Linked DNA regions of Homo sapiens. The protein of the gene in region 3 binds, or shares a complex with, the protein of the main gene of each other region. Each region holds a gene or a part of one and is shown on either strand. Other genes may lie near its edges. A codon is read from its position in the direction of its gene.

Region 1 (7,045 bases), about 51 Mb from region 3:
GTGGGCCTAGGGTTTTTGTACCCCAGCTCAGGGGGTGATTTTTCCCAGTTATGTTCCTGGGACCAGCAGCCAAATCCTCCAACAGGAAAGGGCCAGGAATTGGAGGGAGGGTGATCTGGAAAGGCCCAGGGGTTGAGGGGGTGAACACTCTACTCCCCAGCTAGGCTGCATTTCCTCATTCAATAATGGGGAGGGTCTGAGGGGAAGGTTAGTGTTACAGATGGAAAGGTGGGCTAGGGTCAAGGGGGTGGGGTTGGCACCTTGTTTTCTTCCAGGAACTTGAGCTTGATGGCCACATCTCCCCGCAGCTTCTCATACTTGTCCCGATGGGCCTGGAAAGTGGCCTGGGCACTCTCAAGTCGACCACGTGTCCCTGCATCCCGGGGGCCTAGACTCAGCTCCTCTAAGTCTGTTCGGTAGGCATCATATTCCAGCCTGGGGAGGGGGTGATAAAGGCTGGTCTCCACTCCTTTATCCTCAACACATACTCTCCTTTCCTTCCTGAATTCTTATGCCCCTAATGCCCAAATTTCCACCCATACCAGCCAACTCCCCAAACCCTAAGCCCTGCCAGTGCCCACACCTGGCAGCCTCATACTGTTTCACAGTCATGAGCGTGTCTTCCATGGTCTTGGTGACCAATGTGTTGATGCTAGAGACAAAGAAGTTCACGGCTCCTAGCAGCGTTTCCCCATTCTTGCATAGTAGTTTCTGTGTCTCTGCATTGTAGCCAAATTCCTCCTGAGGGCAGAAGGGAGGAACAGACCTTGAATAACACTCCCTACCTGACTGAAGCTGTAGAGCCCTTCATTCCCCTCCTCCCCGGGGAGGACACAGCCAGCAAAACTGGAACAACCAAGGACTGCCTCCAGCAAGGCTCTCTTAGCCGGAAAGTTAGTGGGATCACCCTGGGGATACCTGGGGTAGGAATGTGGGTGGTGGGCATTCTTGGGTAAGTTCACAAGACTGGAACAGTCTGAGAGCTAGTGTGGCAAGCAGGGGAGGGGCTCTGATTAGGCTGAGCACGAAGGCATTCTCCCCAGTGCAGAGAGGGGTTATTTGTGAGGCACCTAGTGTGCCCCCTCCCCCACCCCCTCCAACTTCTGGACCTCTGTACAAACCCTTAGGCTGCCTCCACAGGTGAGTGCTGCTGGGGGTAGGGCTGGGCCCACCCTGAAGGGGTTCTCCCTGTGGGCTGCAGGAGGGAGGGAGGATGAGGAATGACTGCCTGGGAGGGCCCATGCCCAGTTCCCCCACCCTCTTTGGTCTGGGTGAGGCACCTGAAGCTCTGGGGACTTCTGGCTGAGGTCAGCAAAGGCATCACCCAGTGCATGCTGGGTCTGCAGCAGGCTGTAGAGGTGGGCTGTCAGTGCCCGGCCCAGCTGCAGGACACTCTCATACTTGCGCTTCGTCTCACGCAGCAACTCAATCTGCAGCTCTAGCTCCAGGTCCACAGTCCGTGAGCCTCGACCAAATCGTTCTGATAACAGTTGCTTTGTGCACTGATTGGGAAATGGGGGAATAAATCAGAGACCCTAACAGCCTCCCCACACAACAGGTATCTACCCCAGCACCCCCCAGGCTCCTACTCTCAGCCACAGATGGGATATTACGATCACGAAGAAAAGGGAAAAAGGTACCCATAAGGAGTTTTGGGGAAGGGAGAGGTGCTTAAATCCTACCTTATAGGTGTTGATGCCCCATTTCTTGACGATGTCAAACTTTTCTCCAGCAATGCCCCGAGCCACCTCATCTCCAGGGCCAGAAGGAGTGGTGCTGTGAGATGGATGGCGGCCAGACCCTAAAGGATCAAGTTCTCTGACACCAGCCTCTCTCAGATACACCAGACACCTCTGTGGCCCCACCCATACTTCTCTTCGAGCACATGAAATTGACTTCCCTGAAGGAGATGCTAGAGACAACTGGATGCTCCTGCTTACTAGGAGGAACTCGGACTTTGCGCGGTGAGAACCAAATCCTGATATACATATGGCCTCCTTGGGGGTTAGAGGAGGGGTTTGCAGGGAGTTGTTGGTGTACAGGGGCAGAGGAAACAGAAGAAAATACACTGAGTTTGGGGGCAGCAGGAGTCAAGGATGGTGGGTCATGATAACAAGAAACCTGGTTGCATTCCCATGTGGAATCTTAGTGTGAGATTCAGGGCTGTTTGTTCCTCTAAACTTTAGAATCTAAAAATTCTGAGAAGCTTCACAAAGTTCCAACTCAGCCTCAAGCTGTAGAGGGGGGGCATTCCTGTGAAGCAGGTCTTAACTTGACTCAGGTGGTGGCAGGGAAAGGACAAATGAGCCATTTCAGGGGCTAAGTGGCAAAAGGGAAATGGATGGACAACGCTGGGAGTTGCTTTTGGGCTGAGGAGAGTCCATGAGGTTCCTACAAGCAGAAGTTCCCAAGATCTCCAGACATAATTCAAGCTTTCCTAGACATATCCTATGCTTCCCCAAACCATTCCTGTCCCCTCCTCCACCCAAGATTCCTGTTTCTGAACATTCATACCTGTGGGGATGAGTCCATCACCAGAGCCCCCATAGCCACCAGACACAATGCTGGTTTCATTGAGGTTGGGTCCTGACACCATCACCTGCTGGAGGTCCTATAGGCCAGAGAAGAGGGGTTGCTTCAGGAACATAGGGGCTGCAGAAGCATTTTGGAGGTGGGAACAAGTTTGGATTCAAGCATCATAAAGATAGTACACAAGGGAAGTCTGCACAGAATCAAAATGATACGTAAAAAGAATGAAGGGAGTCAGATAAGTCAGGGGAAGGCTACTGGAATGGAGGGTGAGAACCTAGGATTTATAAATTGGATTCCTAAATTGAAACAATTAGAAGAATCAAACAGAAGCACCTGCTCCAGCCCATCATCTTCAGGAAGCTGCCTGGCTTCGCCGTTCCCGTGGATAGGGATCTCCATTGTGGCTGCCTTCCCTAGGATCCCGTCCGTCATGGCTAGGAAAGGTATTGGAGTAAAACTCTCCACCCCAGCACCCTGCAAAGCCCAACACAGAAGTTCTGGACACTGGCCAGCACTCTAGAAGAAGGAGGCCTCCTCTGTCATTTCTTTAAAGGCTGTCCCAGGGTTTGAGTGTCCCAGCGTTTGGCCATCATTCCTTTCTTCAGATATATGTATTTCTCCCCTCCAAAACGCACATTTGAAACAGGCACACCAAAGCACGGTGTCTTCTCACAAGCCCCCAACCTCACCAGGACTCTGGTGATTATTTCTACACTCATTCAGCAGACATTTAGTGAGTGCCTACTATGTGTCAGGCACTATTTGTGACAATGAAAATACAACAGTGAAGAGGGAAAGTCTGCTCTCTTAGAACTTATCTCCATGCAGGCGTGTTTATGCTGAGGAGATGAACCCTTTCCAGGGCTCAGGTCTTCACCCCCCTATTCAGGTTTGTTCTCCATTGCTTGGCCTTTCACATTCCTTTAGCGTTTCTTCCCCCTTCCTTCAGGGGGTCTCCCCTCCTCCGTCTCATACACCTCGTCTTCCTCGGGCCCTCCCCACCAGGCCTTAGTTAGATCAGTGGGTGTATGTTCCCAGTCTCTGGTAAAAGCCTCTCTCTCCCAGGATATCGGTGACCCTTCCACAGTCAGTTATGTCTCCCAGGTGTGTGAGTCCCCGCCCCCACCCCCATACACCTGGACATCAGGTGTGTCCTCATCCTTCCCCGGGGCTCGGGGCATCTTGCCCTCTGGACAGGTTTGTGCGTTCAACTTCCCGTCGCCCAAGCATGTTCCTCTCACCTCGGGCCGGGCCGCTCTTCCCCTCAGGGCGCCAGGCCCGGGCCGCGCGGGGACCTCGGGCTCCAGTTCCCGTCGCGATCCTAGCAGCAGGTCAGGGACTCGGCGGAAATGACGTCCTCTCCGGGCAGAAGAAGCCGGCCACGTCGCAGATTATAAGGGCGGAGCTGACGTCGCAGCCAGGGCAGGGCGATACTCGAGCTAGCTCTCGAGATCAGCGAGAGGTTACTTCCGGGGCGGCACCGAGAAGCTGAAACGGAAGTGGCGTACGGCATGCGCCGGTGGCGTGATGGAGCGGCAGCAGCAGCAGCAACAGCAACTGCGAAACGTAAGTGAGAACTAAGTCGTTTCGAGGCCAGACGTTCAGCTCGCATTCCTGCACACATCGCGGGAACCCCACAGGGCCAGGGATTTGAGGGCTGGAAACTTCGGGCTATGGCGCGCGGGCCTGGGAAACTTTGGGCGGCGCGACCTTGACTAGAAGTGTGGGGCCCTTATCGCTGAGTTTGTGGTCCCCCTTTTCTCTCAGCTGCGTGACTTCCTGTTGGTCTACAATCGGATGACAGAACTCTGCTTCCAGCGCTGTGTGCCCAGCTTGCACCACCGAGCTCTGGACGCTGAGGAGGTGGGGAACTGTGTAGGGAGGTTACGCTGCAAGAAGAGTTTAGCGGTAGACTGCTTCCCTCCTCACCCCACTTCCCGTACCTCTGGCCCTGGCCTTCCCACGACCCTCACCCCTAGGCTGGGCATGGGGAAGAAAGGAGGCGGACCCGACAGGGCACCTTTATCCTCCACTTAAACCCTATCTTCCTTCTAGGAGGCCTGTCTGCACAGCTGTGCTGGGAAGCTGATCCATTCCAACCACCGCCTCATGGCCGCTTACGTGCAGCTCATGCCTGCCCTGGTACAGCGCCGCATCGCAGACTACGAGGCTGCCTCGGCTGTGCCAGGCGTTGCTGCTGAACAGCCTGGGGTCTCTCCATCAGGCAGCTAGCCATACCCAACCCCAGGAAGGAAGGCCTTGGATGGACCCTCAGATTGAAGGACCCGGTGGACCTTGGGGTTGGTGAATCCTAAACAGAGAGAATTCGAGGTTGCCTGAAAGCTGGGTGTCCTTGCTCCTTTTCCTGGAGCCAATATACCCAGTTTTTACTCAGTTTGATTTATATTCTGGGCAAGGAAGCTTTGCCTACTTTATTGGCACAATCCGTTGTTCTGTCGTTTAGTGCATATCTGCTGGCTTCAGCCCTGGCAGCTGAGAAATTGTTTTCTATATGTAGAAGGAAAACCTGAGCATTTGCAGGCATCTGGTTAAAGCAGGGTCTGTGTGTACAATTTTAAAACGGGTAATATGTCATGCTCTTAGTTCATCTTCACAACAAAACTATGAGTAAGCGGTATTAGCCTCACTTAACAGATGAGGAAGCAAGATTCCAGAAAGTACCAGAAGGTCATTTTATACAACAGGAGATTGGTTCCTGCCCAGATGACAGAAAATGGGAGCTCTGTCTAGTTGTCCTTAAGTCTGACTGACTTCAGTGGCTCATAACCGTGAGCCAAGTATTTGTTGGTTCATAACTGTTGTTTTGTGAACTATGTCTTACATGTCTAGAGTTCTGCTGGATCTAGGGAAAGGAGGAGCTATCGAAGTACAACGGATCAAAAAACCACAGGGCTTTTGGGCACTGCCTCCTTGGGAAGTTAGTGGCCACAGAAGAGAGATGAAACCTGTAAGAAGTCTGGAGTCTTTTGGAACTTCAGCCATTTCCCCAGGTTGTTACTTTCTTAGTATGTACAGTCTTCTCAGGATGAGCAGTAAAACCTTTGAACAAAGGTCTGTGTGGTTGTCTTCACGGGCAATCAGGAAGGGAGAGAGCTGGGGACCATATTCTGCAATGCAGCCAAATCCGAGGAAGAGAAACTGAAGGGAGAAGTAGATGGCAATGGTTATGATAAAAAGGGATAAAACTAAATCTTCGGGACTTCTTTAATGCTACGTTAATGTTTCACTGCTCGTCTAGAAACTCCTAAATCCAGCTTTCTATCATCTGCCCCACATTGGTCCCATTGAGTACATTCTGTGATTTCTAATTCCAGCCTCTCCATTCTTTTCTCATTATTGCCTCCCCCGCCCCCCAACTTTGTGTAATTTACTTCTGTATTCAGCAGCCTGGATAGCATATCATTCCATCACCCCATTTTCTTGCCACCATTGGCCATCTTTTTGTATCATTCCACTTATTCTGTCTTTTCCATTCCTTCATTCAAACTGCTAGAGAAAAACAGTTGTGTAATGAATGCCACTAAATATTCAAGGCCTCCAACCTCAGCCAAGTCCTCACACCAACACGCAGTCACACCAACACACACCTTTATGGGTTCCTGGTCCATTTCCTTCTCTAATTACCATGGCAGTTATTTTACACCTCTACTGCTGTCCTTAATCCCATACCCCACCCTCATCAGGTGACCCTGTTTCCTTTTTTAGAGAAATTGAAGCTCTTAGACATTGGTTTCCACAGTAATAATTTTAAAACTTCTTACAACTACCTACAAAGCAGATGTTCTATCCTATCTACAGAGCAGAAAATTGAAATTCTCAAGTAGCAGACCCGGTATTAAAGTGCAGATCTGACTTTAAAGTCCATGTTCATTTTACACAGCAGGCTGCCTCTTAAGATAGTATTTATTGAGCACACACTTTGTGTAGGTTCTGATTTTGGTAGATGTCATGCTTTATATTAATCTTTACAACAACTATAAGTAAGAGGTATTAACCTCACTTAACAGATGAGGAAGCAAGAATCCAGAATGTGCCAGAAGGCACATTCTGCAGATTTCGTGCAAACATTTATACACAGCTTCTTTTTTTTTTTTTTGAGACAGAGTCTCGCTCTGTCACCCAGGCTGGAGTGCAGTGGAGCGATCTAGGCTCACTGCAACCTCCGCCACCCGGGTTCAAGCAGTTCTCCTGCCTCAGCCTCTCGAGTAGCTGGGATTACAGGCATGCGCCACCACGCCCAGCTAATTTTGTTTTTGTATTTTAAGTAGAGACGGGGTTTCACTGTATTGGTCAGGCTGGTCTTGAACTCCTGACCTTGTGATCCGCCCGCCTCGGCCTCCAAAAGTGCTGGGATTACAGGTGTGAGCCACCACGGCCGGCCTATACAAAGTTTCTTATTGAGAAAAGTGGTTCCAATCATGTTTTTTGCCCCCTTTAGCTGCTATCTCTTGAACAGAAAAGTTTGTTAGGAAGGTAAAAGTTGCTGACTAGG
Region 2 (6,979 bases), on a different chromosome or scaffold from region 3:
ACACATATCATCTATCTAAAAATATTTTCCAAATAGCCAAATATATGTTATAAGCTAAGTGACTGACCAGGTGCAGTGGCTCAATCCCAGCATTTTGGGAGGCTGAGGTGGGTGGATAGCTTGAGCCCAAAAGTTCTACATCAGCCTGGGCAACATGGCAAAACCCCATCTCTACAAAAAATACAAAAATGAGCCGGCATGGTGGTGTGCACCTGTAGTCCCAGCTACTCAGGAGGCTGAGGCAGGAGGATCACTTGAGCCCAGGAGCTTGAGGCTGCAGTGAGCCATGATCACGCCACTGCTCTCTTGCCTGGGTGACAGAAAGAGACCCTGTCTCAAAGAAAAAACGTATAAGCTAAGTCATAAAACCTAGCATCACAAACATGGGTGCCAACATTAGGTATTTCTTGGTGGGATGCAGTAAGACAGCATCACCTATGTGGTATTCTGGCCAAAGTTTGATATGGCTCTAATCATGAGGGAATAATTAGGAAAATCTACAACATGGAACAATTTGTAAGACAACCTGGCTGGTCTTTTCAAAAGTGTCAGTCATAAAGAAAAGGGGTTGAGAGGGCTGATTTAGAGTGAGAAAATAAGGCCAGGCATGATGGTTCACGCCTGTAATCCCAGCACTTTGGGAGGCTGAGGTGGGCAGATCACGTGCGGTCAGGAGTTCCAGACCAGCCTGGCCAACATGGTGAAACCCCATCTTTACTAAAAACACAAAAATTATCTGGGCAGAGTGGCGGGTGCCTATAATCCCAGCTATTTGGGAGGCTGAGGCAGAAGAATCACTTGAACCCAGGAGGCAGAGGTTGCAGTGAGCTGAGAAAATAAGCCTGGGCAATAAGGCGAGACCTAGTTTCTACAAAAAAGTAAAAAATTAGCCAGCGTGGTGGCAAGTGCTTGTAGTCCTAGCTACTCAGGAGGCTGAGACAGGAGGATTGCCTGAGCTCAGGAGTTGAAGGCTTCAGGGAGCTATGATCATGACAGAGCAAGGCCCTGTCTCTGGAAAAAAAAAAAAAAAGAGGGAAAGGAACTAAAGAGTAATGACAAAGAGCTGTAAGATCCAAATTAAGTTGTCATTTTAATAATTCAGAGTGCCTACACTCAGATCTTAGGTCACTGTTTCTTTCACATAAGTTTCACCTAGAAGGTAAGAGTTAAACTATCTCCAAGGTCTCTGGCGACTCTGACATTGTAGTTCTTTCAGTACACTCATAATATACAATAAATTGTGAACAAACAAGTACCACCTATGAGCCCAATTACGAAGAGAAAATGTAACTAAAATAAAAAATAATGGCCACGTGCGGTGGCTCACGCTTGTAATACTAGCACTTTGGTAGGCCGAGGCGGGTGAATCAAGTCAGGAGTTCGAGACCAACCTGGCCAACATGGTGAAACCCCGTCTCTAATAAAAATACAAAAAAAATTAGCTGGGCGTGGTGGCGGGCGCCTGTAATCCAGCTACTCAGGAGGCCTGAGGCAGAAGAATCGCTTGAACCTGGGAGGCGGAGGTTGCAGTGAGCCAAGATCGCGCCACTGCACTCCAGCCTGTGCCACAGAGTGAGACTTTGTCTCAAAAAACAACACAAAACTCATTAGAGAAACTCAGCAAGTTACAAAAAAATAATAATTAAAAGGGTCTTTAACGCTGAGCCCTTAAAGTCTTTTTTTTTCTTTTTTTTTTAAGACAGTCTTGATCTGTCACTCAGGCTGGAGCACAATGGCGCGATCTCAGCTCACTGCAACCTCCACCTGCCGGGTTCAAGCAATTCTCTTGCCTCAGCCTCCTGAGTAGCTGGGACTACAGGCGCGCGCCACCATGCCCAGTTAATTTTTTGTATTTTCAGTAGAGGCGGGGTTTCACCTTGCTGGCCAGGCTGGTCTCGAACTCCTGATCTCGTGATCCGCCCGCCTTGGCCTCCCAAAGTGCTGGGATTACAGGCGTGAGCCACCGCGCTCAGACTTTAAAGTCCATTTTAAGTCTAGACTTCTATGAAGGTAGACTGCCGAGATGTAAAAGAAATAAAATTAGTTATTTAGCTTTTAGATCGGATTACATTTTCTGCTTTGATTATTCTAAAGCCTCCAGTAAGGCGTAAAGGGAAAGCTCTAAGTAGCGCATCCTGGGAAATGAGCAGATCAGGGAAGGGGTGTTAGACCTGGTATTATGTCTAAAGACGATTTTCATTTAAAGGAGGATCTTCCCCCGGGCAGCTCAAGGTCACATCGTAAATACCTTATAGTCTAATTCAGTGTCCCAAAACAGGACCCCGACTCCCCAGATCCGGGTTGGGGGTGGCTCAGGGCCTAAAGTTCCTACCCTCGCCCAGGTGACACCATCTCCAGGAAGGTCTGCACCCGACCCGGCGAAGCGCTGTCCCGCTTCGCACCCCCCACTGCTCCAGGTACGTGCGGCGGCCTCCTCGGGAGACCCCGCCACTTTCCTGGAGCGTAGCCTGCCACCCCCCGTCCGGGAACCCCGGATTCTCACGGCAGAGAACAGACACCATACTTAAGCACAGGCTCTCGCATCCGACATCAGTACAAGGCTGGGGGTTGTTGGGGGACGGTTGAGCCTTGGGAGGGAGGGTCAGGGTCTGGACAGGAGCCGCGGCCGCCAGATGGGAAAGAACACGTGGGAGCAGTAATGTCAAGTGACACTTAAACCCTTAGACGCCGATTCGTTATAACGCGAGGAAATCTAGAAGAAAAAGCAGGTACCATCAGCGAATTCTAAAATCTCCTAAGGATTAACTTCGGTTATTTTCTGCTTAGACAACGCTTTCTATTCCCGACTTCCTCTCCAATAATGACCCGAATCTGTCGAAACTTCTTGGAAGCCTAATTTACCTAATCCCACGTCCCTAACGGTCTTCGGAAGCGAAGCAGTGTCAACAGTCCCTGGTAAACACAAGTAGTATTACAAGTCGGGAGCTCTTCAAGTCTTGGATGAGACTGTAGAGCGGTCTTGTGCGGCAATGTGCTACCTTAAAATAAATAAATAAATAAACCCCTGTTATGTCCGGAGTTTGTTTCCACCCGGAGAGGAATGGAAGAGCACCAGAGAGCGCTTAGCTTTCTGGTTGGATGTTTTGGGTGAGTTTCTTGGCGCGCATGCGTGTTGTGTCTCAAGGGCGGGTTTGAAGGGAAGTGGGTGTTGACCTGCGGGCAACTGACGCTGTTGTCAGATTACACCCACGACGGTGCGGGTCTCGGGCGTTCTGGAGATACGTAGGGGTGAATTTATGTTTCCGACGATTGCATCTGGAGGGGTGTGTAAGACTCTGTGGCTGAAGAAAGCTATTACGCTTCTTATGTGGGTCATTATTTTAAAAATAGCATTTCGCTTTTATTTGCTTGACTGCCTCTTCTCAACAAATTTTAAGCCCGCCACTACATGTGTTTGGTTTTGCCCTACCAGCTCTGGGGTTGGGGAGTGCACTGTTATGGTTATTGTTGCTCCTGTGGCCATTCTCTTGTCATCCCCACTTTCACATTTTGGCGTGGTGTATTAATAGACTGAGTGGGATTAATGGGTAAATATGACTTTATAGTCAGCTCTAATCCTGGATTCAATATCAGAATTTAGATTTTCAGCTTTGTGGATGTTCGACATTTTAAAAACAGTTATTGCAAAGAGGTGAAAATTTTGTTCTGAAGTCTTAAGGAAACAGAGAAAGTTTTTCCGTCCTTAAGTGTGGGACTTGTTTTGTGACCAACAATATGAAAGGCTCTGAGGTCAGCTTGGAGAAGAAAAAAAAGATTAAGATGCCAGTGAAGAGACTTCGTGAGGTAGTTTCTCAAAATCATGGAGATCATTTGGTTTTGCTGAAAGATGAGTTGCCCTGTGTTCCTCCGGCATTGTCTGCAAATAAACGTCTTCCTGTTGGAACGGGGACTAGTTTGAATGGAACATCACGTGGTATGTGATTCCATGTAGTTTTTCAACCAGTTTTAGTTTAGTAAATCTTTAGTCCTTATTTGTTTAAATTCCCAAACGTAAGATATAAGTCTAGTTTGTACAGATGTTTGAAAACTGACCCTGTTTCCCGGGAAAATGGCCAGGAAGCCTATAAAATGTTTGAATAGATGGAATGAATGAAACTTTAACGTCCCCTGTTGTGCTTTTTTTTTTTTTTTTTGCATTGACTTTTGCATATTTTTTTTTTTATATTTATGGTGGATACACTTAACTTGTATAATGTGCTTTATTTTCCCCCACGTAGTGTTTTTTATAGTTTTCCCCCAAAGTAGTGCTTTTTACCTAATTCACTACTTTCTTTTCATAGTGGGAAAAGCAGGACTTCTGCCAATTGATGGCTTCTATATTCCAATTCACTTAATCTGTCTAGAGCTCAGTGAAAATAAGGATAACATATGCTTTACCCACTTCGCTGCTAATTGTGAGGATTAAATTAATGAATATGTGAGCAAAAACAGCAAAACGCTTTTGTAATGCTGTTCTTTGGGGGATACAGCGGTGACACTCAAATAGTACTGCTGTTAAATTAGACCTTTACATCGTATACATATTTCTACCCATAGTTTGTCCACATCCAATAGTGTATGGTTATATTTTAAAATGTTTCGTGCTTAATCTCACTTTATTGTCAGTACCGAACCTTATTTTCCCAAATATCAACTGTAAAAACTTTCATTCAGATATGTTTAAATACATTTTCTTAACTTTTTTTGCATGCAAATTGTCTTTCCAACTTCTGCGTTATATGGAGTTTATAGATCTTGAATCATGCATATACAGTTTCTAAAGCTAAGGATCTGATTTTAAAATCACTAAAATCTATTCCTTTGTTTTGTTAGGTTCATCAGACTTAACTTCTGCTAGAAATTGTTACCAGCCTCTATTAGAAAATCCCATGGTGTCAGAAAGTGTAAGCAAAAGGATTCTTAATTATGCTCACGTTAAAATTTTCAGTATTGTCAAATAATGCATTCTTAAATTATGTTTGATTAGCAGCATGCCTTGTTTTTATTTAAATATCACTTACCAAAACAAATGTTTTATATACTACAATTGTGACTTTGAATGGTGTTTGAGACATTAAACAAAAGGCCTTCCCTAGAATCAAAAATACCTATTAGTAAGATAATGGCCGCTGAAAGAGATAGGATAACTGAAAAGAAACTCTCTTACTATTCAGGGAAAAGGTGTTCTTGCCCAGAGACTTAACATGTTCTTAGGTAAAAGAAAAGGAACAACTAACAGTACAATTTTTCTTTAATGTGAGGTGTGCTTGCATGTCATTCTAACACTTGTGAGAATGGTTTTGGTTTTCTTAGAAGGGAGGTTCTTTAAGAATAACATGAAATTATCATCTTAACTTTATAATGCCGAAAGTATTTGATAAATACAATGTTTTGGTTATGAGATCTAATCAGACTTTGACGGCTAATCATAGTGTTGACCTATGTATTGTCAGTTTAATAAGTCTGTATAATGAGAGTTTCACAATATGCTATTTTGAAAATTGAAGCTGGCAAACTAATAATTCAATTGAGACTATATGACAATTTTGTCAAAAGCTCACAATAAAATGTATAATTATTTGCTGTACTTGATCCCTAAGTAAATGCCTAGACTTTGGAGTGTTTTTTTGTTGTTTTGTCTTTTTTTTTTTTAAGCAGGCCTTATTTAATGATATCTAAACTTCTCAAATGTATGGATACACTGTTATTGTATAATTGAGAATAAATGGGTGATCTTCGTGATGTTGTGCCATCCTTATCTACTCCATTTGACTCACAGTGAGTCAGATTTTCACATTTCACTGAAGCAACTGAGATGTTAAATGACTTGCTCTGCTACAAGTGGCAAACTGGTTTGAGTCTGAATCTCAGTGCTACATTTGCTTGCTGGTTCATTTACTCATTCATTCACTTGTCTGATAGTGTATTACTCACCCATTCAACAAATCTTTGAGTAGCTTTAAGGTACATCAGAATTGCATGATGATGGAAATGAAGAATATGAAATACACAGTCCTGCCCTCCCAGAACACAGTAGTCACATAGCTAGTAAACGGTTCTTGATAAATAATAAATCATGAAGTTTATTTAGCCTATTTCTTCCTTTCATATCCCAAAGGATTTTTCTAAAGACGTTGCAGTGCAAGTGTTGCCTTTGGATAAAATAGAAGAGAACAACAAGCAAAAAGGTAAAAGAATAATATTGATTTTTTTAAATTGTGACAACATATACATAACATAAAGTTTACTACTTTAAAATGTACAGTTCTGTGACAGTAAGTACATTCACATTGTTGTACAATCATCATCACCTTTCATATCCAGAGCTTTGTCATCTCTCCCAACTCTACCCATTAAACACTAACTGCTCATTTTTCATCCCCTCAGCCCTGGGCATCCTACTTTTTGTCTCTATGAATTTGACTACCCTAGGTACGTTATATAAGTAGAATCATATAGTATTTGACCTTTTGTGACTGGCTTATTTCACTTAGCATAATGTTTTAAAGGTTCATCCATGTTGTAGTATGTGTCAGAATTTTCTTCTTAAGGGTAGAATTTATTTTTAAACATTTATTACGTAGTCTTATAGTTTTTATTATTTTCATTTTAAATTAGTTTTTCTTCCCAAATTAAGCTATCACTAGAAGCTATAAAATCCAGAATAAGGTTTGCAATGGTGAAGGTTATCTTGTTATTACCAACCTATTGCAGAGGTTTAGTATTAGATATGTTTATAAATTTTTTTTTTGAGACGGAGTCTCCCTCTGTTGTCCAGGCTGGGGTGCAGTGGCGTAATCTCAGCTCACTGCAACCTCCAGCTCCCGGGTTCAAGCAATTGTCCTGCCTCAGCCTCCTGAGTAGCTGGGATTACAGGTGCACACCACCACACCCAGCTAATTTTTCTATTTTTTTTTTGTAGAGACAGGGTTTCACCATCTTGACCAGACTGGTCTCAAACTCCTGACCTCAAGTGATC
Region 3 (7,576 bases):
ATCTGTAAAACAGGATTAGTCAGGGGGCTAACCCTATTTTACAGATGCGGAAGCTAAAGCACACAAAAGTGACAGGTGCAGGGCCACACAAAAAGCAGCAGACAGCAGGCAAACCTAAGCTGTCTTACTTTTTTTTGAGATGGAGTCTCACTCTGTTGCCCAGGCTGGAGGACAGTGGCACAATCTCAGCTCATGCAACCTCCGCCTCCTGGGTTCAAGCGATTCTCCTGCCTCAGCCTCCTGAGTAGCTGGGATTACAGGCACCCGCCACTACACCCAGCTAATTTTTGTATTTTTAGTAGAGACGGGGTTTTGCCATGTTGGCCAGGCTGGTCTTGAACTCCTGACCTCAAGTGATCCACCCACCTCAGCCTCCCAAAGTGCTGAGATTACAGGCATGAGCCACCTTGCCCGGCCTGTCTTACTCTTAAACACTCATTAATCTCCCTCTGCTGGTAGGGGCTGTGTCTGTTTTCTTTACTCTCAAATGCCAAGCACACTGCTTTGCACATAGTAGGTGTCAACAAACTTGTTTATATATATATATATATATATATATATATATATACACATACATACACACACAGTCACATTCCAGTGTGACAAATACTCCTTCACCAGGAGACAGCGCTACCACTCCGGGATCTTGAAGACTCTCTACAGAGAGCCTAGGCCTGGCAGTCTTCACAGATGACACCCAACAGGGAGCACGTTTATTAAAGTGGGAAGGGGTGGGGTACACCCCAGGGTGTATACTGACAGGGACCTCATGCAGGCCCAGAGCTCTGCTGCACCCTCTTCATCAGCTCTTCATCCTGCATAGACAACTCTGTCAACTTTTTGCCCATCCGCTCATGGATGTCCAGGTACTTAGAGACACATCGGTCCAGGCACACAGACTCGCCCTTGGAGAGCTCTGCTTCCTTGTAGTGAGGAGGCACACACTTCCGGTGGCAGGCACTGGTCATTCTGGAGGGAGGGAGGGGCAAGGTCATGTCAGCAGCATCCTGTGACATCCCAGGAACCTTGACCATTCCAGCCCTGCTATATTGATTTCACCTCCCCCAAGAAAGCAGTGTAAATCCTCAGTTTACACCTCAACCACTGGAAGGTCCTTGCAAGTAGGAAACTTGTCTAAGTCCATGTATATGACTAACTAAGTAGAAACCATTTGTTGAGGACTGGCTACATGCCAGGCATCCTGCTAAGTGCTTTACCTGCATTCTGTTATGCAATGCTTACAATAACCCTAAGAGACATGTATCCCCATTTTACAGATGAGGAAATTAAGGCAAACAGAGGCTCAGTAATTTTCTAAGGATCACACAGAGCTGGGTTATGAAGCCAGGTCATCTGACCTCACAGTCTACACTTAAAAATCCTTCTAATTTATAGCCTTCAGGATAAACCAACCAATCAAGAGAGCTTAAGCCAATAAAAATAGCAGACATTTCACTAAGTGTTGGGCTTGAGGCTAAGGGCTTTCATATATTTTTAGATTTAATATTTATGATGTCCTATGAGGTAGGTATCATTATGTCTTCTTCATAATGAGGAAACCAATTGTCAAACAGTGCAAGTAACATGTCCAATTATACTGCTGGTGATTGGTGGAGCCAGGATTTGTTCCCAAATTTGCCAAATGGTTATGAGCACTAGTTGCAGAATCAGACTGAGGTGCTAGTTCTGGCATTGTTACTGACCAGCTGCCGACCCTAAGGAAGTTACTTAACCTCTAGAATCATCAATTTCCTCATTTTAAGACGGGACTAATAAAATTAACCCACTGGATTATTTTGAAGATTAACAAGTGCCTGACACAGAATAAAGGGTTTTAAAATGTTAACTACTAAATGGGCTGGCTATGTGCTATTTGTCAAGAGGCAAATACTCAGCTTTTCTTGGAACCTAACCAGAGCCTGGATTGGAGTTTCTCTTCCTGCTTGGCTCCTGCATTGCCAGTTCCATCCCCATCTAAATGCCCAACTCATTCTAGTGACCCTTTACTGCATCTACATTAGGATCAACCTTGAAGGTGGGTGTGGGGAGGGTAAGCATGGGCCTCAGGCTCCCCTACATTCAGGAAGGAATTTGTCATAAGTCATTCACCTTCGATAAGGGTGACCAAGACTTATTTTCCAAGACAGGGTAGCACATAGTTCTCTTTACCTGTTGTACATATCGGCCATCATCTCCACCTCCAGCTCCGCAGCCAGCTGTTGGGCCCTGAGAGGATCCATCTCAGCCTAGCACCGTGGAAGGGATCTCCTTCTGGCCTCCTAATCCTGGGAGCAGACATCACCATCAGCACCCACCGCCGCCGTTCACTCTCCTACCCCTGGGGCTAGAGGATACAGAGGACTCACAGGGCGCCAGACCACCACGGGCCACTAACCTCAGTGAGCTTAACCACCCCATTTCACGGATGTGGAAACTGAGGCCTAGCCCAAGGTCGCACAGGACGTCTATGGCGAGCCTGGAAATCGAGCCCCGGATCTCTGATGCCCCAGTTCCTGGAGGTCACCTCTATTCAGGAGATCGAGGACCGGAGGAGAACTCTCTAACCCACGAACCTGAACCTCCAGGGCCCTGGGAATGGGATCATACGCTGAACAGAGGCGACCGGGACCCAGCCCAAAGGCTACACCTCTGAAATGGCGACGCCATCATCAGGGCCACATTGAATTCAGAGGTCATGTGTCACTTACCACTGCCTGGGACGGATCACAATGCCCACGGAGACCCCAACTTCTGACAAATACTATAACGTTACCCGCCTCCCGAGAGGCTCCAGCGGAAGCACGTGGGTTACTTCCGGGAGGAAAGTCCCGCCTCTTCTTTGATTCAAACTCGCTTCCGGAATTAAATACCAACGAGACGGCGCCGGGAACTCGGCGATCATAGAGAGGGAGCGGCTGGCGCCGGGCGAAGAGGAAGGCGACTTGCCAGTGCTAGAGAGGACACCAAAGTACCATAGAAGCTTGGGCGGGGTGCAGAGCGTCTGCAGCCCGATCAGAATTCAAGTCCTTTGGGATGTCACCGAGCGGCTTCAGTTTATTGGTTCTGTAGGAAGAGGCGTGGCGACAGACACCTGTGAACCTCACCCCCGTTCCAGACAGCCGACTCCTGTGCGCAAATCAGGCGTGGAGAAGGAAGAACGCCCCCAAACAGCGGTTCTGTTTTTGTTTCGCGTTAAAATCACCTGGAACGTTTTTAAACATCCCAGTGCCCAGGACTCACCTCATTTCAATTAAATCAGAATCTCTGGGAGTACAGTTTAAAATTCCTCAGGCAGCAATACAATTTAAAATTCCCCAGGTGATTCGTATGTACAGCCAAATTTGAGAAGCAGTGCTCCACGGGACGTTGTGCGATTACTGCTGTGTGTAGGTCACACTAAGCCCCGTCTGGGGTTGCAAAGATAAGCGAGATAGGCTTCCTGTTCGCAGAAAGACAAGACGTGTAAAATATGTTTTCTTCAACAGTTAGAGGTCCTCAGCCACAAAGAGATAATAAAAGCAATTTCGGCTGCCACCAGGGCTAATCTTGGGTGAGGGAAAGAAGGGTACTGGTGAACTTTCCAACTTTCAAGACTTAATGTGTTCTTCAAACTGCACCATTCACTCATTCCCCACTAAAAAGAAGGAAACAAGGAAACAATACTCAGTCCCTTGATTTGTCACACAATTTCCTGGTAAAATAAATTTACAAGATGTAAATTAATGACGCAAGGGCACATTGCCCATTGGAAAAGGTGGGCTAGACATTTTCTGTGTGGTCATCATAAGCTTCCCTAATTGTCCAAGACCATCCTAATTTTAAACAATTGACCTTTCTACTGCTTTGAAGACTCATCTTTGCCAAACTTGTGCCCTGATTTTTAAAGATTGGGGTATAACATTCATAAAGTGCATAAAATACACGAATGTTAAGCTTAATTAAATATATATGTATCTATATATGTACATTTGTATAACCGCCATCCAGATCAAGATATAAAATACTTCCTGCACCCCAAAAAGTTATCTTGTGTTCCTTCCCCATCAATACCCCCTCTCGAAGTTAACCACTATTCTGACCTCTATCACCATCAATTAGTTTTCCTTGTTCTTGAACTTCGTGTAAATGGAATTATACATTATTTTCTATTTTGTGCCTGACTTCTTTAGCTCAATGTACCTGTAAGATTTCCTCCATATTGTTGTGTGCATCTGTTATTCCTTCTGTTTTATTGCTGTCTAGTGTTTGATTGTATGAGTATGCCACAATTCATCTATCCATTCTCCCGTTGGTGGATGTTTGGATTGTTTCCAGTTTTTGCCTATTATGCAATAATGCTGCTATGATACTCTTGTACAGATGGACATATCTTGCCTTGGTTTTTGCCTTTGAAAATATAGTCAACATTGGCCGGGTGCAGTGGCTCACGCCTGTAATCCCAGCACTTTGGGAGGCTGAGGTGGGTGGATCACCTGAGGTCAGGAGTTCGAGACCAGCCTGGCCAACTTGGTGAAACCCCATCTCTACTAAAAATACAAAAAAGTAGCCCGGTGTGGTGACGGGTGCTTGTAATCCCAGCTACTCAAGAGGCTAAGCAGGAGGCTAAGGCAGGAGAAACACTTGAACCCGGGAGGCAGAGGTTGCAGTGAGCCAAGATCGCACCATTGCACTCCAGCCTGGGCAACAAGAGTGAAACTCCGACCCCCCACTCCCCGCAAAAAAGAAACATTATGGAAAGTTAAGAAACTGCGTGGGAAAAGGAGATGGTTTCTTACAAGAGGAATCTTGCAATATCTACTGGGCCTTATGAAAGGTTGCATACTGTATGATTTCATTTAAGTAACATTCTCAAAATCACAAAATTATAGAGATGGAGAAGAGATTTCTGATTGTCTAGTGTTAGGGTTGATGGGGAGATAGAAGTGTACCTGTAAAGGGTAGCACAAGAGAGATCTTTGTGTTGATGGATAATTCTGTATCCTGATTGTGGTGGTGGTTACAAGAATCTACACAGGTGATAAGATGTCATAGAACTGGCAGGGTGCGGTGGCTCACGCCTGTAATCCCAGCACTGTGGGAGGCCCAGGCGAGCGAATCACAAGGTAGGAGTTCGAGACCAGCCTTGTTGGTGAAACTCCGTCTCTACTAAAAATACAAAAAATTAGCTGGGGGTAGTGGCGGGCACCTGTAACCCCAGCTACTCAGGAGCCTGAGGCAGGAGAATCGTTTGAACCCGGGAGGTGGAGGTTGCAGTGAGCCGAGATCGTGCCACTGCACTCCAGCCCAGGCGACAGAGTGAGACTCCGTCTCAAAAAAAAAAAAAAAGCCAGGCGCGGTGGCTCACACCTGTAATCCCAACACTTTGGGAGGCCGAGGCGGGTGGATCACGAGGTCAGGAGATCGAGACCATCCTGGTTAACATGGTGAAACCCCGTCTCTACTAAAATAAAAAAAATCAGCCGGGTGTGGTGGCATGCGCCTATAGTCCCAGCTACTCAGGAGGGCGAGACAGGAGAATCGCTTGAACCCGGGAGGCGGGAGGCAGAAGTTGCAGTGAGCCGAGATTGTGCCACTGCACTCCAGCTTGGGCGACAGAGCAAGACTCGGTCTAAAAAAAAAAAAGAAAGAAAAAAAAAGTCATAGAACTACTACACACACACATTGTACCAATATAAATTATCTGGCTTTGATATTGAATATAGTTATGTTAGATTTAACCTTTAGTGGAAGTTGGTAAAGGGCGTACAGGACCTCTCTGTACTATTAATGCAACTTCCTGTGAAACTATAATTATTTCTAAATAAAAAGTTTTAAAAATCTCTACAAAAAAGAAAACAAATAAGATTATACAAGTATGAGTAAGAGCTGGCCATAAAGAAAGAAAGAAAAATATTTATATAAAAGATTGTGTAAGTAAAGTACCTAGTCCATGGTAGATGCTCAATAAAAATAAATCATTGTTTTCATTCTTTTTCATTTTTAAACTTTCACTGGGGCAAATTTATTTTTATTTTTACTTAGGATTTTTGAGGCAGGATCTTGCCTTGTCACCCAGGCTTGAGTGCAATGGTATGATCAGTGCTCACTGCAATCGTGAACTCCTTGGCTTAAGCAATCCTCTTACCTCAGCCTCCTAAGTAGCTGGAACTAGAGGCATGAGCCACCATGCCTGGCTAATTTTTTTTTTTAAGAGATAGGGTCTCATCATGTTTCCCAGGCTGGTTTCAAACTCCTGGGCTCAAACAATCCTCCTGTCTTGGCCTCTCAAAGTGCTGGGATTACAGGCATGAGCCACCCCATGCCCAGATGGAATATTTAAAACATACAGAAAAGCAGAGAGAACAGGACATTGAGCTTCCATATATTCATCACCAGGACTTAGGAATTGTTAACATTTGTCCATATTTTCTTCATCTATTTTTATCTCTAACAGATAAAGCCCTTTTATTTATTTATTTTTTCCTTGAGACAGGGTCTCTGTCGCTCAGCCTGGAGTGCAGAGACCCAATCATAGCTCACTGTTAGCTTAAACTCCTGGGCTCAAGCAATCCTCCCATCTCAGCCTCCTGAATAGCTAGGACTACAGGCGCAAGCCACCATGCCTGAGTGGTTTTTAAAATTTTTTGTAGAGATAGGGTCTTGCTATGTTGTCCAGGCTGGTTTCAAACTCCTGGCCTCAAGCGATCCTCCTGCCTCAGCCTCCCAAAGCACTGGCATTACAGGCATGAGTCACTGCACTGGGCCCTGCTTAACAAAAAAAATTTTTTTAAACGGAGTCTCGCTCTGTCACCAGACTGGAGGATAGTGGCACGATCTCCGCTCACTACAGCCTCTGCCTCCCAGGTTCAAGGGATTCTCCTGACTCAGCCTCCCAAGTAGCTGGGACTACAGGCGCATGCCACCACACCCAGCTAATTTTTGTGTTTTTAGTAGAGATGGGGTTTCACCATGTTGGCCAGGATGGTCTCAGTCTCCTGACCTCATGATCCACCTGCCTTGGCCTCCCAAAGTGCTTTATACACCGCGCCCGGCCAACAAATTTTTAAGTGCACAAAATAGTATTGTTAACTATATGTACCATATTGTACACAGATTTCTAGAACTTATTCATCTTGCATAACTGAAATTGTATACCCATTGAACAGCAACTCTCCATCTCCCCAGCTGCTCAGCCTCTGGAAAACCATTGCTCTTATTGATGATGATGCTATTGTTATTATGATTATTTACTATGAGACTGTGTCTTTCCTCTATGTGGAGACCTACAGGTAGGAATCTCCAATGGTCCCAGTTGAATTGCTTCTTGTAGAAGACAGTTTAGATAGCCTCAGACTTTGAAGATATCCTTAGACTCCAGATATGTCATCCAAAGCTACTGATCTCTGTCAACACCATGCTGAAACTCTGGCTCCTCATTCTACCCTGCATTCTACCCCTTCCCAACCTTGCAAAGGTGAGTTGTATATTTGTCATTCATCGTGGGTCAGTATTGTCCTCTTGGGTGGGACCCCAGCCCCAGAAGAAGAGATGCAGAGTTTTCATCTAGAATCACTTCAAGTGGGCCCTGACCACTCAT

The links. Proteins that work in one complex are often made in the same cells at the same time.
Region 1: the proteins of TIMM10 (region 3) and TIMM10B are in contact, whole or in part, in a cryo-EM structure (PDB 7CGP), measured with the Homo sapiens proteins. Residues at the interface, in NP_036588.1 of Homo sapiens: Ala6 (codon at 2,225), Leu9 (codon at 2,216), Leu13 (codon at 2,204), Glu16 (codon at 2,195), Met17 (codon at 2,192), Asp20 (codon at 2,183), Met21 (codon at 2,180), Arg24 (codon at 2,171), Ala28 (codon at 959), Lys32 (codon at 947), Cys50 (codon at 893), Asp52 (codon at 887), Arg53 (codon at 884), Cys54 (codon at 881), Ser56 (codon at 875), Lys57 (codon at 872), Tyr58 (codon at 869), Asp60 (codon at 863), Ile61 (codon at 860), His62 (codon at 857), Glu63 (codon at 854), Arg64 (codon at 851), Met65 (codon at 848), Gly66 (codon at 845), Lys68 (codon at 839), Leu69 (codon at 836), Leu72 (codon at 827), Asp76 (codon at 815); in NP_036324.1 of Homo sapiens: Gln7 (codon at 4,078), Leu11 (codon at 4,090), Leu14 (codon at 4,300), Arg15 (codon at 4,303), Phe17 (codon at 4,309), Leu18 (codon at 4,312), Leu19 (codon at 4,315), Tyr21 (codon at 4,321), Asn22 (codon at 4,324), Arg23 (codon at 4,327), Met24 (codon at 4,330), Thr25 (codon at 4,333), Glu26 (codon at 4,336), Cys28 (codon at 4,342), Phe29 (codon at 4,345), Val33 (codon at 4,357), Pro34 (codon at 4,360), Ser35 (codon at 4,363), Leu36 (codon at 4,366), His37 (codon at 4,369), His38 (codon at 4,372), Arg39 (codon at 4,375), Leu41 (codon at 4,381), Glu46 (codon at 4,588), Leu49 (codon at 4,597), His50 (codon at 4,600), Ala53 (codon at 4,609), Gly54 (codon at 4,612), Ile57 (codon at 4,621), His61 (codon at 4,633).
Region 2: the proteins of TIMM10 (region 3) and TIMM9 are in contact, whole or in part, in a crystal structure (PDB 2BSK), measured with the Homo sapiens proteins. Residues at the interface, in NP_036588.1 of Homo sapiens: Glu16 (codon at 2,195), Met17 (codon at 2,192), Asp20 (codon at 2,183), Met21 (codon at 2,180), Arg24 (codon at 2,171), Ala28 (codon at 959), Cys29 (codon at 956), Lys32 (codon at 947), Cys50 (codon at 893), Arg53 (codon at 884), Cys54 (codon at 881), Ser56 (codon at 875), Lys57 (codon at 872), Tyr58 (codon at 869), Asp60 (codon at 863), Ile61 (codon at 860), His62 (codon at 857), Arg64 (codon at 851), Met65 (codon at 848), Gly66 (codon at 845), Lys68 (codon at 839), Leu69 (codon at 836), Leu72 (codon at 827); in NP_001291414.1 of Homo sapiens: Lys15, Leu18, Gly19, Tyr21, Asn22, Lys23, Thr25, Glu26, Cys28, Phe29, Leu30, Val33, Asp35, Phe36, Thr37, Thr38, Arg39, Glu40, Val41, Glu45, Thr46, Glu50, Leu53, Leu57.

Annotation. Positions count from the first base shown.
Region 1 is NC_000011.10:6,477,458-6,484,502, forward strand, and holds the start of TIMM10B (mitochondrial import inner membrane translocase subunit Tim10 B), read left to right. Parts: upstream 1-4,043; 5' UTR 4,044-4,059; coding exon 4,060-4,098; intron 4,099-4,299; coding exon 4,300-4,395; intron 4,396-4,587; coding exon 4,588-4,764; 3' UTR 4,765-7,045. Other genes in the region: ARFIP2 (arfaptin-2), read right to left, coding at 261-435, 584-741, 1,281-1,502, 1,683-1,900, 2,515-2,611, 2,866-2,964. UniProt on the Homo sapiens protein: Component of the TIM22 complex, a complex that mediates the import and insertion of multi-pass transmembrane proteins into the mitochondrial inner membrane.
Region 2 is NC_000014.9:58,424,530-58,431,508, forward strand, and holds the start of TIMM9 (mitochondrial import inner membrane translocase subunit Tim9), read right to left. Parts: upstream 3,003-6,979; 5' UTR 2,863-3,002; intron 2,714-2,862; 5' UTR 2,525-2,713; intron 1-2,524. Other genes in the region: KIAA0586 (protein TALPID3), read left to right, coding at 3,100-3,108, 3,709-3,934, 4,834-4,904, 6,119-6,188. UniProt on the Homo sapiens protein: Mitochondrial intermembrane chaperone that participates in the import and insertion of multi-pass transmembrane proteins into the mitochondrial inner membrane.
Region 3 is NC_000011.10:57,527,950-57,535,525, forward strand, and holds TIMM10 (mitochondrial import inner membrane translocase subunit Tim10), read right to left. Parts: upstream 2,806-7,576; 5' UTR 2,709-2,805; intron 2,345-2,708; exon of another isoform or gene 2,286-2,344; 5' UTR 2,241-2,285; coding exon 2,170-2,240; intron 970-2,169; coding exon 768-969; 3' UTR 515-767; downstream 1-514.